Homo sapiens: one gene and its partners. The protein of the gene in region 3 purifies or fractionates together with the protein of the main gene of each other region. This does not show direct contact. Each region holds a gene or a part of one and is shown on either strand. Other genes may lie near its edges.

Evidence for each region. Proteins that work in one complex are often made in the same cells at the same time.
Region 1: the proteins of BTNL8 (region 3) and ITGA7 purify together in Homo sapiens (affinity purification with mass spectrometry; 3 studies listed by BioGRID and IntAct, with this or other methods). This does not show direct contact.
Region 2: the proteins of BTNL8 (region 3) and TCTN2 purify together in Homo sapiens (affinity purification with mass spectrometry; 3 studies listed by BioGRID and IntAct, with this or other methods). This does not show direct contact.
Region 4: the proteins of BTNL8 (region 3) and DNAJC16 purify together in Homo sapiens (affinity purification with mass spectrometry; 3 studies listed by BioGRID and IntAct, with this or other methods). This does not show direct contact.

The regions. Positions count from the first base shown.
Region 1 is NC_000012.12:55,694,405-55,697,904, reverse strand, and holds part of ITGA7 (integrin alpha-7 isoform 2 precursor), read left to right. Parts: intron 1-82; coding exon 83-210; intron 211-358; coding exon 359-454; intron 455-627; coding exon 628-689; intron 690-836; coding exon 837-1,006; intron 1,007-1,472; coding exon 1,473-1,622; intron 1,623-2,267; coding exon 2,268-2,383; intron 2,384-2,934; coding exon 2,935-3,127; intron 3,128-3,209; coding exon 3,210-3,290; intron 3,291-3,382; coding exon 3,383-3,462; intron 3,463-3,500. UniProt on the Homo sapiens protein: Integrin alpha-7/beta-1 is the primary laminin receptor on skeletal myoblasts and adult myofibers.
Region 2 is NC_000012.12:123,677,613-123,681,112, forward strand, and holds part of TCTN2 (tectonic-2 isoform 1 precursor), read left to right. Parts: intron 1-1,576; coding exon 1,577-1,677; intron 1,678-3,500.
Region 3 is NC_000005.10:180,905,659-180,909,158, forward strand, and holds part of BTNL8 (butyrophilin-like protein 8 isoform 2 precursor), read left to right. Parts: intron 1-2,927; coding exon 2,928-3,275; intron 3,276-3,500.
Region 4 is NC_000001.11:15,561,348-15,564,847, forward strand, and holds part of DNAJC16 (dnaJ homolog subfamily C member 16 isoform 1 precursor), read left to right. Parts: intron 1-794; coding exon 795-978; intron 979-2,581; coding exon 2,582-2,764; intron 2,765-2,935; coding exon 2,936-3,012; intron 3,013-3,500. UniProt on the Homo sapiens protein: Plays an important role in regulating the size of autophagosomes during the formation process.

The sequences.
Region 1 (3,500 bases), on a different chromosome or scaffold from region 3:
TGGGTGGAATCAGCAGAGGCATCAGGGGAGGCAGAGGCCTGCGGGAGGTGGGATTGAGGGAGGCTGACAGCTGGTTCTCTAGGTGCTGGAGGGCGAGGCTGTGGGCATCAAGAGCTTCGGCTACTCCCTGTCAGGCAGCTTGGATATGGATGGGAACCAATACCCTGACCTGCTGGTGGGCTCCCTGGCTGACACCGCAGTGCTCTTCAGGTGAGCCCCTCTCAACCTTTTCCCTCCCTGAGGCCGTCAGCCCCTCCCTGTGACTCTGACCCCGACCTCAGTGCCAAATCTAATGCTGAAGAGTGTTTCCCAGCCTCATGTTCTCATGTTTCTTGTGCTCTTGACTCCCCAATCCCAGGGCCAGACCCATCCTCCATGTCTCCCATGAGGTCTCTATTGCTCCACGAAGCATCGACCTGGAGCAGCCCAACTGTGCTGGCGGCCACTCGGTCTGGTGAGGTGGGATCGGGTGGCACCTGGACCCTGGCAGCTTCCCCTGCCCTCCCTTTGATCCTTTATCTCCCCAGTTTGGGGCTGGGGCTGTGACAGGATGTGACAGATGGGGTGGGGGTAGGGGCCTTGGCCCATCAGCCTCGTTTGGCTCAGGAGCCACCTTTGCCCCCGCAGTGTGGACCTAAGGGTCTGTTTCAGCTACATTGCAGTCCCCAGCAGCTATAGCCCTACTGTGGGTGAGTGCGGTCCCCCCTCTGTGGCTCGCCCTTTTGGGTTTCCCAGGGAGGGGGGTCACTTCGAGGTGGTAGAAGAGCACCCTTGGAATGGGGTGAGCTGGAGCAGCTCTGCAGCTCAGCAGCTCCTCCTTTCCCAACATGCCACAGCCCTGGACTATGTGTTAGATGCGGACACAGACCGGAGGCTCCGGGGCCAGGTTCCCCGTGTGACGTTCCTGAGCCGTAACCTGGAAGAACCCAAGCACCAGGCCTCGGGCACCGTGTGGCTGAAGCACCAGCATGACCGAGTCTGTGGAGACGCCATGTTCCAGCTCCAGGTGGACACTGACCCCTTGGCTTCTGAGGGTCATTTTCATGGCTCCATCTCTTTTCCCTGATTCCTCTTAGCTGCTTTTTCCCGAGCACACTCGTGCCTCCTTCTAAGACCTAGACACGTGGGAAACCTGTCTTCTGAGCTCACTTCCTCCTCATCTGCTGCCCTCTCCTGTCATTTCTGCACTCCCTGGAGGAGGAGGAGGTGCAAGGGGCTTCATGTCCCCTCTTCCAGCTGAATGGAGGAGGTGGCAGCTTTTATCATCACATCTGGTCCTCAAAGCCCTAAAGGTTTCCCCTGTCCCCTACCCCAGTCTTTCTCCCTCCTCCTTGCTCAGTTCTCCACCTCTCTCATTCATCTCCCTAATATTCTTTCCAAGTTTTAGAATTGGTCCTAGGTCTGGCTGGGGCACTGAGCAGGGCTGAGGCCTGGGGATTGTTCCAGTGAGGAATAGACCTTCCTCTTCCTAGGAAAATGTCAAAGACAAGCTTCGGGCCATTGTAGTGACCTTGTCCTACAGTCTCCAGACCCCTCGGCTCCGGCGACAGGCTCCTGGCCAGGGGCTGCCTCCAGTGGCCCCCATCCTCAATGCCCACCAGCCCAGCACCCAGCGGGCAGAGGTGAGCATGGGTTCTGGTTTAGCCCAGGGGGAGGAGCTGGGAGGGCAAAGATCATGGTCCCTCCCCAGTGACACCAATTCACAGCTCACAGAGCCCTTTCACGTATGCTACTCCAGTAATTCCTCATATCTCTAGGTGCCTAAATGACCATGTTCCTAGTCAAGGGGACAGAGCTCCTCTACTCCATGTAGTCATTCAGGGGGCTCAGGTTGATGGGATTCTGTAATCTTCAAATGCGGCCTTCAAGCTCTTGAAGTCACATTCATCCCATTCAGCTGGAAGGGAGAACATGAGGCCCCTTGCTTGCATGGTTTTTATGGCTGGCCCAGAAGTGGTGCCCTTGACATCTTTTCCCGTTCTAAATCCGGAACTCAGTTACATGCATGTGAGCTGGGGCAGTGTGGCCCAGCTCTTGACTTGCTGCTAGTCTCTACCATGGCATGGTAGTGCTCCCATCACTACCATGATGAGAGGACCCAGAGGAGAGGACCCAGTTCAGGATCACATGGCTAATAAGCAGCAGATCTGAGAGTTGAGGACAGGTTGTTTAATCCTGTGATACTCTAACCCACCATATGCCATGGTGACAGGTTTGCCCCCTGCCTTGCCCCCTAGGAATGCCCCTTATCTCATGTCTCTCCCCAGATCCACTTCCTGAAGCAAGGCTGTGGTGAAGACAAGATCTGCCAGAGCAATCTGCAGCTGGTCCGCGCCCGCTTCTGTACCCGGGTCAGCGACACGGAATTCCAACCTCTGCCCATGTGAGGGGGGCAGAGAGCAGGGTGGGGGTGGGAGGGCAAGAGTTCAAGGATTGAGAGAAAGCCCTCTCAGGAGGACCAGTCAGAGGGAAGGGCTGAGCCTGCAGAAAAGGCAGAAGGTGGAAGAGGACCTGCCGATGGACTTGGAGACTGAGATGAGGGTCAGTGATGGGGCCACGGGGGCTCCCATGGCAAGGAATAGCAATCCTTCACAGTACACTAATAATATGCAGTCTACATACATCTCATTGGTTAGTCTTCAAACCTCTGTGAGGTAGGAATTATATTAGTCTCATTTTATAGATGGAGAACTGAAGCCTAGAGAGGTTAAGTTACTTGGCCAAGGTAAGTAATGGTGGAGCTGAGATGAGAACGGAGGTCCCCTGACTCCCAGTCGTGTGTACAGAGGCCTGAGGCTTGGACGGGTGTGATGGGGACCTGGGGTGGGAAGAGAGGCTCAGGGAGTGAAGGCAGGTACTGGGGGAGCAGACTGGGCGGGGGAATGGTAGGGGGAGGTGTTCAGAACTTAGCAGGAGTGGGGTCTGACTCTCCAGGGATGTGGATGGAACAACAGCCCTGTTTGCACTGAGTGGGCAGCCAGTCATTGGCCTGGAGCTGATGGTCACCAACCTGCCATCGGACCCAGCCCAGCCCCAGGCTGATGGGGATGATGCCCATGAAGCCCAGCTCCTGGTCATGCTTCCTGACTCACTGCACTACTCAGGGGTCCGGGCCCTGGACCCTGCGGTGAGGACCTGGGGGCAGGATGGGGTGGGGTCTTGAGGGGCTCCAGTAACCCAGACTGACCTTGCCTTCTCTCCCATTCCAGGAGAAGCCACTCTGCCTGTCCAATGAGAATGCCTCCCATGTTGAGTGTGAGCTGGGGAACCCCATGAAGAGAGGTGCCCAGGTTGGCACATCTGCCCTTATCCCTACGTGAGTAGCCTCTCCATAAGCCCGTAGACCACCCCTGACTCTAATCTCTTTCCACCCTTGGCCTAGGTCACCTTCTACCTCATCCTTAGCACCTCCGGGATCAGCATTGAGACCACGGAACTGGAGGTAGAGCTGCTGTTGGCCACGTAAGCCAGGCGGGGCCGGAAGGGTGAGGTGGGGGTAG
Region 2 (3,500 bases), on a different chromosome or scaffold from region 3:
TTATAAACAACGGGCCCTGCCAATGTTTACCTTTTTAGCATTTCTCCTGAGCTGCTTTCTCTGGCCTTGTCCCATTCACGCCCGCCACCTTCTCCCCTGCACCACAGTGTTCCCCCTATTCATCCACCCCCTCTGTCTTCCACCTACAGCTCTCCAGTAGCCCCTCTTACCTGTACAAACTCTTTCTTTTTTTTTAAAGTATAGATGGGGTTTCTCCATGTTGGTCAGGCTGGTCTCGAACTCCTGACCTCAGGTGATTCCCCCGCCTTGGCCTCCCAAAGTGCTGGGATTACGGGCCTGAGCCACTGTGCCTGGCTACCTGTACAAACTCTTACGTGTGTTTCAGGCTCAGCGCATTCTCTCTCTCTGCAAGTCTTCCTGACGCCCAGCCTAAGCCACGTGCCCTCCCTGGGTTCCCATGGCAGATCCATTTCAGTGTTTACCCTTTATGGTCACATGATCTCTTTACCTGTCTCCTCCCTCTGAGAGTGCGAGCCCCTCAGGGAAGCTGTTGTGTCTCACTGTATCATCCCTGCATAACCCAGCCCCCCATACTCTCGTGGTCAGACCACATTTGTCCCACCTGCACTGTTGGGTACCACAGCCACGAACCATGTCTGGACACTGGACAGTTGAAAGGGGATGGGTCTTAATTGAGATGTGCTGTAACTGTTAAACAGCCACCAGTTTTTGAGGACTTAATGTGAAACAAAGAATGTGGAATAGCTCATTCATAATTTTTACATTGATTGCCTGTTGCAATGATATTATTTTGGATACGTTGGGTTCAGTAAAATATATTAAGTTAATTTTATCTGTTTCTTTTTTGTAGCCTGGGCTACTTTTTGTATTTTTATTAGAGACAGGGTTTCACTATGTTGGCCAGGCTGGTCTTGAACTCCTGACCTCAGGTGATCCACCCACCCTGGCCTCCCAAAGTGCTGGGTTTACAGGTGTGAGCCACCCCGCCCAGCCTAAAATCAGTACATTATGTATATACTAACTTGTGACTCTTAGTCAATTGATTATCTTCTAGATCAACTATGACTTCTTTGGTTCATTGTAACTGGCGTGTTTTCTTATGTTTGGGTTTTTGTTGGAGTGGTAGATGCAGGCCTCATATACTTCGTGGATTCCTTAATGTCAAATATTTGGTAATAATGATTTACAAAACAAGATAATTCAGCTTGCTTTTTTTTTTTTGACACGGAGTCTCACTGTGTCGCCCAGGTTGGAGTATAGTGGCACGATCTCGGCTCACTGCAAGCTCCGCCTCCCGGGTTCACACCATTCTCCTGTCTCAGCCTTCCAAGTAGCTGGGACTACAGGCGCCTGCCACCACGCCCAGCTAACTTTTTGTATTTTTAATAGAGACCGGGTTTCACCGTGTTAGCCAGAATGGTCTCGATCTCCTGACCTCATGATCCACCTGCCTTGGCCTCCCAAAATGCTGGGATTACAGGCGTGAGCCACCGCGCCTGGCCGATAATTCAGCTTTCTTTTGAATGTCAAAAATGTGACTGTGCTTTGTCGGAATGTTTCTTAGCTGAATTTTTCTGTTGTGTGTACTTTTCAGAGAACGTGACTGTCATTCCTAACCAGGTGTATCAGCCCCTTGGCCCTTGTCCTTGTAATTTAACAGCTGGAGCCTGTGATGTTCGCTGCTGCTGTGACCAGGTATGTTCTTTGGTTATTGGGCACAAAAGTTATGCTACCTGTGAGAACACCAGCAGTTCCACCAACAGCTTTTTTCATTTTTTATTTCTTGAGATAGGGTCTTGCTCTGTCACCCAGGCTGGAGTATGGTGATGCAATGATGGCTCACTGCAGCCTCGACCTCCCGGGCTCAAGTGATTCTCTTACCTCAGCCTCCTGAGTAGCTGGGACCACAGGCATGAACCATCACACCCAGCTAATTGTTTTGTATCTTTTGTAGAGATGGGATTTTGCCATGTTGCTCAGGCTGGTCTCAAATTCCTGGGATCAAACAGTCCTCCTACCTTGGCCTCCCAAAATGTTGGGATTACAGGTGTGAGCCACCATGCCTTGCCCCAACAGCTTTTTAAGGGATGGTCTTCCAAAACTGAGATTATGTTTTCTATTGCAAATTGTTTTCAAATTGAGTTTTTTTTTTTTTTTTTTTTTGAGATGGAGTCTCGCTCTGTCGCCCAGCCTGGAGTGCAGTGGCGTGATCTTGGCTCACTGCAAGCTCCGCCTCCCGGGTTCATGCCATTCTCCTGCCTCAGCCTCCTGAGTAGCTGGGACTACAGGCGCCCACCACCACGCCCAGCTAATTTTTTGTATTTTTAGTAGAGACGGGGTTTCACCGTGTTAGCCAGGATGGTCTTGATCTCCTGACCTCGTGATCCGCCCGCCTCGGCCTCCCAAAGTGCGGGGATTACAGGCGTGAGCCACCGCGCCCAGCCCAAATTGAGTATTTTTTTAAATTTAAAAATTTTGGTGGGCGCAGTGGCGCATACCTGTAATCCCAGCACTTTGGGTGGCCAAGGTGGGCGGATCACCTGAGGTCCGGAGTTTGAGACCAGCCTGACCAACATGGAGAAACCCCATCTCTACTAAAAATACAAAATTAGCCAGGCGTGTTGGTGGGCGCCTGTAATCCCAGCTACTCTGGAGGCTGAGGCAGGAGAATCGCTTGAACTAGGGAGGCAGAGGTTGCAGTGAGCCAGAATTGTGCCACTGCACTCCAGCCTGGGCAACAAGAGCGAAACTCCGTTTCAAAAAAAAAAAAAAAATCACACAACTTTTGAGTAAATTTTTTTTTTTTGAGACGGCCTCCTAAAGTGCTGGAATTACAGGTGTAAGCCACCATGCCCGGCCTGACTTTTTTTCTTTTAGGCTTAGAGCAATACAACATATAAACTCTATTTTCTTTCTTTTTTCTTTCTTTTTTTTTTTTTTGAGACAGAGTCTCGCTTTGTTGCCCAGGCTGGAGTGCAGTGACACGATCTCGGGTCACTGCAACCTCCACCTCCTGGATTCAAGTGATTCTTGTGCCTCAGCCTCCCGAGTAACTGGAACTACAGGTGTGCGCCACCACACCTGGCTAATTTTTGTATTTTTAGTAGAGGCGGGGTTTCACCATGTTGGCCAGGCTGGTCTTAAACTCCTGACCTCAGGTGATCTGCCTACCTCGGCCTCCCAAAGTGCTGGGATTACAGGAGTGAGCCACTGCACTGGGCCTAAATTCAGTATTTTCTTATCTGGCATAGTCAGTCTAGTTTTTGGAAGAAGGAAAGAATATCTCTTTGGATAAAATCATGATTGTGAAGATCATACTGGGGGGATGGTTTTAATAATATTTATTCAGAAACCTTTAAGAAATATAAAAAAAGAAAGAATAAGAAAGAACAGGCCTGGCGAAGCAGCTCACGCCTGTAATCCCAGCACTTTGGGAGGCCGATGTGGGTGGATCACTTGAGTTCAGGAGTTGGATACCAGCCTGGGCAACATGGCAAAACCCCATCTCTACAAAAATT
Region 3 (3,500 bases):
CATTTAGTGCTATAAATTTCCCTCTACACACTGCTTTGAATGTGTCCCAGAGATTCTGGTATGTTGTGTCTTTGTTCTCGTTGGTTTCAAAGAACATCTTTATTTCTGCCTTCATTTCGTTATGTACCCAGTAGTCATTCAGGAGCAGGTTGTTCAGTTTCCATGTAGTTGAGCGGCTTTGAGATTCTTAATCCTGAGTTCTAGTTTGATTGCACTGTGGTCTGAGAGATAGTTTGTTATAATTTCTGTTCTTTTACATTTGCTGAGGAGAGCTTTACTTCCAGTATGTGGTCAATTTTGTAACAGGTGTGGTGTGGTGCTGAAAAAAATGTATATTCTGTTGATTTGCGGTGGAGAGTTCTGTAGATGTCTATTAGGTCCGCTTGGTGCAGAGCTGAGTTCAATTCCTGGGTATCCTTTTTGACTTTCTGTCTCGTTGATCTATCTAATGTTGACAGTGGGGTGTTAAAGTCTCCCATTATTAATGTGTGGGAGTCTAAGTCTCTTTGTAGGTCACTCAGGACTTGCTTTACGAATCTTGGTGCTCCTGTATTGGGTGCATATATATTTAGGAGAGTTAGCTCTTCTTGTTGAATTGATCCCTTTACCATTATGTAATGGCCTTCTTTGTCTCTTTTGATCTTTGTTGGTTTAAAGTCTGTTTTATCAGAGACTAGGATTGCAACCCCTGCCTTTTTTTGTTTTCCATTGGCTTGGTAGATCTTCCTCCATCCTTTTATTTTGAGCCTATGTGTGCCTCTGCACGTGAGATGGGTTTCCTGAATACAGCACACTGATGGGTCTTGACTCTTTATCCAATTTGCCAGTCTGTGTCTTTTAATTGGAGCATTTAGTCCATTTACATTTAACGTTAATATTGTTATGTGTGAATTTGATCCTGTCATTATGATGTTAGCTGGTTATTTTGCTCGTTAGTTGATGCAGTTTCTTCCTACTCTCGATGGTCTTTACATTTTGGCATGATTTTGCAGTGGCTGGTACCGGTTGTTCCTTTCCATGTTTAGTGCTTCCTTCAGGAGCTCTTGTAAGGCAGGCCTGGTGGTGACAAAATCTCTCAGCATTTGCTTGTCTGTAAAGTATTTTATTTCTCCTTCACTTATGAAGCTTAGTTTGGCTGGATATGAAGTTCTGGGTTGAAAATTCTTTTCTTTAAGAATGTTGAATATTGGCCCCCACTCTCTTCTGGCTTGTAGGGTTTCTGCCGAGAGATCCGCTGTTAGTCTGATGGGCTTCCCTTTGAGGGTAACCCGACCTTTCTCTCTGGCTGCCCTTAACATTTTTTCCTTCATTTCAACTTTGGTGAATCTGACAATTATGTGTCTTGGAGTTGCTCTTCTCGAGGAGTATCTTTGTGGCGTTCTCTGTATTTCCTGAATCTGAACGTTGTCCTGCCTTGCTAGATTGGGGAAGTTCTCCTGGATAATATACTGCAGAGTGTTTTCCAACTTGGTTCCATTCTCCCCATCACTTTCAGGTACACCAATCAGACGTAGATTTGGTCTTTTCACATAGTCCCATATTTCTTGGAGGCTTTGCTCATTTCTTTTTATTCTTTTTTTTCTAGACTTCCCTTCTTGCTTCATTTCATTCATTTCATCTTCCATCGCTGATACCCTTTCTTCCAGTTGATCGCATCGGCTCCTGAGGCTTCTGCATTCTTCACGTAGTTCTTGAGCCTTGGTTTTCAGCTCCATCAGCTCCTTTAAGCACTTCTCTGTATTGGTTATTCTAGTTATACATTCTTCTAATTTTTTTTCAAAGTTTTCAACTTCTTTGCCTTTGGTTTGAATGTCCTCCCGTAGCTCAGAGTAATTTGATCATCTGAAGCCTTCTTCTCTCAGCTCGTCAAAGTCATTCTCCATCCAGCTTTGTTCCGTTGCTGGTGAGGAACTGCGTTCCTTTGGAGGAGGAGAGGCGCTCTGCTTTTTAGAGTTTCCAGTTTTTCTGTTCTGTTTTTTCCCCATCTTTGTGGTTTTGTCTACTTTTGGTCTTTGATGATGGTGATGTACAGATGGGTTTTTGGTGTGGATGTCCTTTCTGTTTGTTTTCCTTCTAACAGAGAGGACCCTCAGCTGCAGGTCTGTTGGAGTACCCTGCCGTGTGAGGTGTCAGTGTGCCCCTGCTGGGGGGTGCCTCCCAGTTAGGCTGCTCGGGGGTCAGGGGTCAGGGACTCACTTGAGGAGGCAGTCTGCCAGTTCTCAGATCTCCAGCTGCGTGCTGGGAGAACCACTGCTCTCTTCAAAGCTGTCAGACAGGGACATTTAAGTCTGCAGAGGTTACTGCTGTCTTTTTGTGTGTCTGTGCCCTGCCCCCAGAGGTGGAGCCTACAGAGGCAGGCAGGCCTCCTTGAGCTGTGGTGGGCTCCACCCAGTTGGAGCTGCTTTGTTTACCTAATCAAGCCTGGGCAATGGCGGGCGCCCCTCCCCCAGCCTCGCTGCTGCCTTGCAGTTTGATCTCAGACTGCTGTGCTAGCAATCAGCGAGACTCTGTGGTCATAGGACCCTCTGAGCCAGGTGTGGGATATAATCTCGTGGTGCGCCGTTTCTTAAGCCCATCGGAAAAGCGCAATATTCGGGTGGGAGTGACCCGATTTTCCAGGTGCGTCCGTCACCCCTTTCTTTGACTCGGAAAGGGAACTCCCTGACCCCTTGCGCTTCCCGAGTGAGGCAATGCCTCGCCCTGCTTCGGCTCGTGCACGGTGCGCGCACCCACTGACCTGCGCCCACTGTCTGGCACTCCCTAGTGAGATGAACCCGGTACCTCAGATGGAAATGCAGAAATCACCCATGTTCTGCGTCGCTCACTCTGGGAGCTGTAGACCGGAGCTGTTCCTATTCGGCCATCTTGGCTCCTCCCCCTCACTACAAAGGGTTTTGATGATTTATCTTTTGTATGTCTTCCCACAGGGCAGTGGCAGGTGTTTGGGCCAGACAAGCCTGTCCAGGCCTTGGTGGGGGAGGACGCAGCATTCTCCTGTTTCCTGTCTCCTAAGACCAATGCAGAGGCCATGGAAGTGCGGTTCTTCAGGGGCCAGTTCTCTAGCGTGGTCCACCTCTACAGGGACGGGAAGGACCAGCCATTTATGCAGATGCCACAGTATCAAGGCAGGACAAAACTGGTGAAGGATTCTATTGCGGAGGGGCGCATCTCTCTGAGGCTGGAAAACATTACTGTGTTGGATGCTGGCCTCTATGGGTGCAGGATTAGTTCCCAGTCTTACTACCAGAAGGCCATCTGGGAGCTACAGGTGTCAGGTCAGTTTCATATTTCATAACTTAGTTGTCCCAAAGAACCATCCTGGACTTTATAAGTGTTTTTTTCAATAAGGAAATTTTAAAATTTTAGGTCATTTAGTTAGAAGGCAGCATTCTATACTCTACGTTCCTTCTGTCTTGTGTGTATAGTTCTATGTGTTTTGTCACATGTTTAAATTCAGGTAACCACCATCACATCAAGGTATAGAACTACCCCATCATCAC
Region 4 (3,500 bases), on a different chromosome or scaffold from region 3:
CCAGCCCTCCCTATACTGGAAGAACTAGGACAAATAGTTTCTAAAAGGCCCTGCCGGCCAGGAACAGTGGCTCACGCCTATAATCCCAGCACTTTGGGGGGCTGAGGCAGGCGGATCACTTGAGGTCAGGAGTTTGAGACCAGCCTGGCCAACATAGTGAAAACCCGTCTCTACTAAAAATACAAAAACTAGTTGGGTGAGGTGGTGCACGCCTATAATCCCAGCTACTTGGGAGGCTGAGGCAGGAGAATGGTTTGAACTCAGGAGGCGGAGTTACAGTGAGCCGAGATCACACCACTACACTCTCCAGCCTGGGCGACAGAGCAAGACTCCATCTCAAAAAATAAAATGAAAGGCCCTGCTGCATCAGAGATTCAGTGACCAACCCCTTAAATTCCTGGCAGGCACGATGGCTCATGCCAGTAATCCCAACACTTTGGGAGCCTGAGGTAGGAGGATTGTCTGAGGCCAGGAGTTCAAGACCAGCCTGGGCAATATAAACAAAACTATATATATATAGTTTTCATATATATAAAATTTCATATATATAAAATTTTAAAATTCGTAAATGTGGTAAAGAAGTTTGGTTTGGGAAAAACATCACAGATTGGGAAGAGAAACAGTTTGTTAATGACTTGGAAATCCTCCCTTAGTTGAAATGTCAGCTTTCACTGGGCACAGTGTATTCACTTCCATAAGATGAGCTCCTCGTCTTCTTCACCTTCACTTGCCATTATAGGTGCTGGCCCTGCCATCAGGGATTGGTTATAAAGTTTTGTCTTTTTGTTGTGCAGGTACTGTGTGGTTTTATTGACTGCTGAGACTACCAAGTTGAGCAAACCCTTTGAGGCTTTCCTGTCCTTTGCCCTGGCAAACACTCAAGACACAGTGAGATTTGTGCATGTCTACAGCAATCGGCAGCAGGAGTTTGCCGACACCTTACTACCAGACAGTGAGGCGTTTCAAGGGAAATCAGCGGTAAGCCACAGAGTCTCTCCTCATCCCAGGCTCTTCATAACCATGTGGCACTTGATTCTGTTTCCTTCTTCCTTGAGAGTGTTGAATACAGATTCTAGGAAATCTGAAACTCTGAAGCCTATTTTCAAAGTCTACTCTTTTGTTTTTCCTTTTTCTTGATTTTTTTTTTTTTCTTTTGAGACAGGGTCTCACTCTGTCTCCCAGGCTGGGAGTGCAGTGACATGATCTCAGCTCATTACAGCCTCGACCTCCCAGGCTCAAGTGATCCTCCCACCTCAGCCTCCCACATAGCTGGGACCACAGGCACACACAACCACGCCTGGCTAATTTTTTGTATTTTTTTGTAGAGATAGGGTTTCGACATGTTGCCCAGGTTGGTCTCAAACTCCCGAGCTCAGGCAATCCTCCCGCCTCCCAAAGTGCTGGGATTACAGGCATGAGCCACTGCTCCTGGCCTAAAGCCTACTCTTAAAACAGTTTTTGACCTGGTCTTTTTACATTCTGGATGTCAGCCTCAGGCCCCCACAGAAACCATGTTTTCTATCAGTGAACGGTAAAGGTCATCAGTGCTTTTCACCAGTTTTTTACTAAGGCAAGTCTGGTCTTGCAGCATCCTAGATCCTAGATTTTACAAATCCTTAGGCCACTGGTAATGTGCTCTGGAAATTTCTGCCCCCCTCTGCCTCTTTAACTTCATCCTGGTTGATCTCTCCTGCCTTTCTCCTGCATTGTCATCACTTCCTACAGAAACAAGAAATTCTCCTCTGACTTTTCATCATTTTCGCAATCATGGAAAATCTCTCTAAAAAACAAAGGTTTCCATTAATATTAAGTCAAGGTTATAGAGCAAAGTCTATTGAGAAAAAAGAGCTTTAACTTTTAACAAAAGCTTAGGAAAGTCACCATAAAAGTTATTTCTTAGGCCGAACGCGGTGGCTCACACCTATAATCCCAGCACTTTGGGAGGCCGAGGCGGGTGGATCACTTGAGGCTAGGAGTTTGAGACCAGCCTAATCAACATGGTGAAACCTCATCTCTACTAAAAATACAAAAATTAGCTGGTGTGGTGCACACCTGTCTGTAGTCCCAACTACTCAGCAGGCTGAGGCACGAGAATTGCTTGAACCTGGGAGGCAGAGGTTGCAGTGAGCCAAGATCGCACCATTGCACTCCAGCCTGGGAGACAAGGGCGAAACTCTGTCTCAAAAAACAAACAACTGGGCCAAGTGTGGTGGCTCACAGCTGTAATCCCAGCACTTTGGGAGGCCAAGGCAGGCAGATCACGAGGTCAGGAGATCGAGACCATCCTGGCTAGCATGGTGAAACCCCATCTCTACTAAAAAAAAAAAAAAAAAAAAAAAAAAATACCAAAAATTAGCCAGGCATGGTGGCAGGTGCCTCTAGTCCCAGCCACTTGGGAAGGCTGAGCCAGGAGAATGGCGTGAACCCGGGAGGCGGAGCTTGCAGTGAGCCAAGATCACGCCACTGCACTCCAGCCTGGGCGACAAAGCAAGACTCCGTCAAAAAAAAAAAAAAAAGCAAACAACTGTAACTTAACCATGCTTTTGAAACTTCTGATGTTTTTTCTCTACTTTTCTTCCAGGTGTCTATTTTAGAAAGGCGCAACACAGCAGGAAGGGTGGTGTATAAAACCCTGGAAGACCCTTGGATTGGGAGTGAGAGTGACAAATTTATCCTCTTGGGCTATCTCGACCAGCTGCGTAAAGATCCAGCTCTTCTGTCCTCTGAAGCAGTGCTTCCTGACCTGACCGATGAACTTGCCCCTGTGAGCATCGGGGCTGGGAAGGGTGGGACACCAGGAGGGCTTGTGAGTACACAGTGCTGGTGGCGGATTTCTGCTCAGAGCAGAGGTCCAGCAGCAGCACTGTGTTGCAGGGTAGAGGGACTCTCCCTTCCGGCTTTAGTCCTGACCATCATCCATTTTCTCTCTACATAGGTTTTTCTCCTTCGATGGTTCTACTCTGCTTCTGACTACATCTCAGACTGCTGGGATAGCATTTTTCACAACAACTGGTAGGGATATTGCCAGGCTGAATTTCTTTTTCTCTGTTAATACTGATATCACTGTTTTTCTTTTGAAAAGAGTTCATCATTATTAAATTTCAAGGTACACTTGATGGGGCAAGTGGAAGAACGTTTACACATTTTCTATTCCCCTTTTTCTTTCTTTCAGTAACTTCCCTTTTTTTTATTTTTTACTTTTTTTTTTTTTGAGACAAAGTCTTGCTCTTGTCCCCCAGGCTCAATCTGGGGATCACTGCAACCTCCGCCTCCCAGGTTCAAGCAATTCTCCTGCCTCAGCCTCCTGAGTAGCTGGGATTACAGGCACCTGTCACCATGCCTGGCTAATTTTTGTATTTTTAGTAGAGATAGGGTTTCACCATGTTGGTCAGGCTGGTCTCAAACTCCTGACCTCAGGTGATCCACCCGCCTCGGCCTCCCAAAGTGCTGGGCTTACAGGTGTGAACCACTGCTCCCGGACATTTTTTATTTTTTATTTT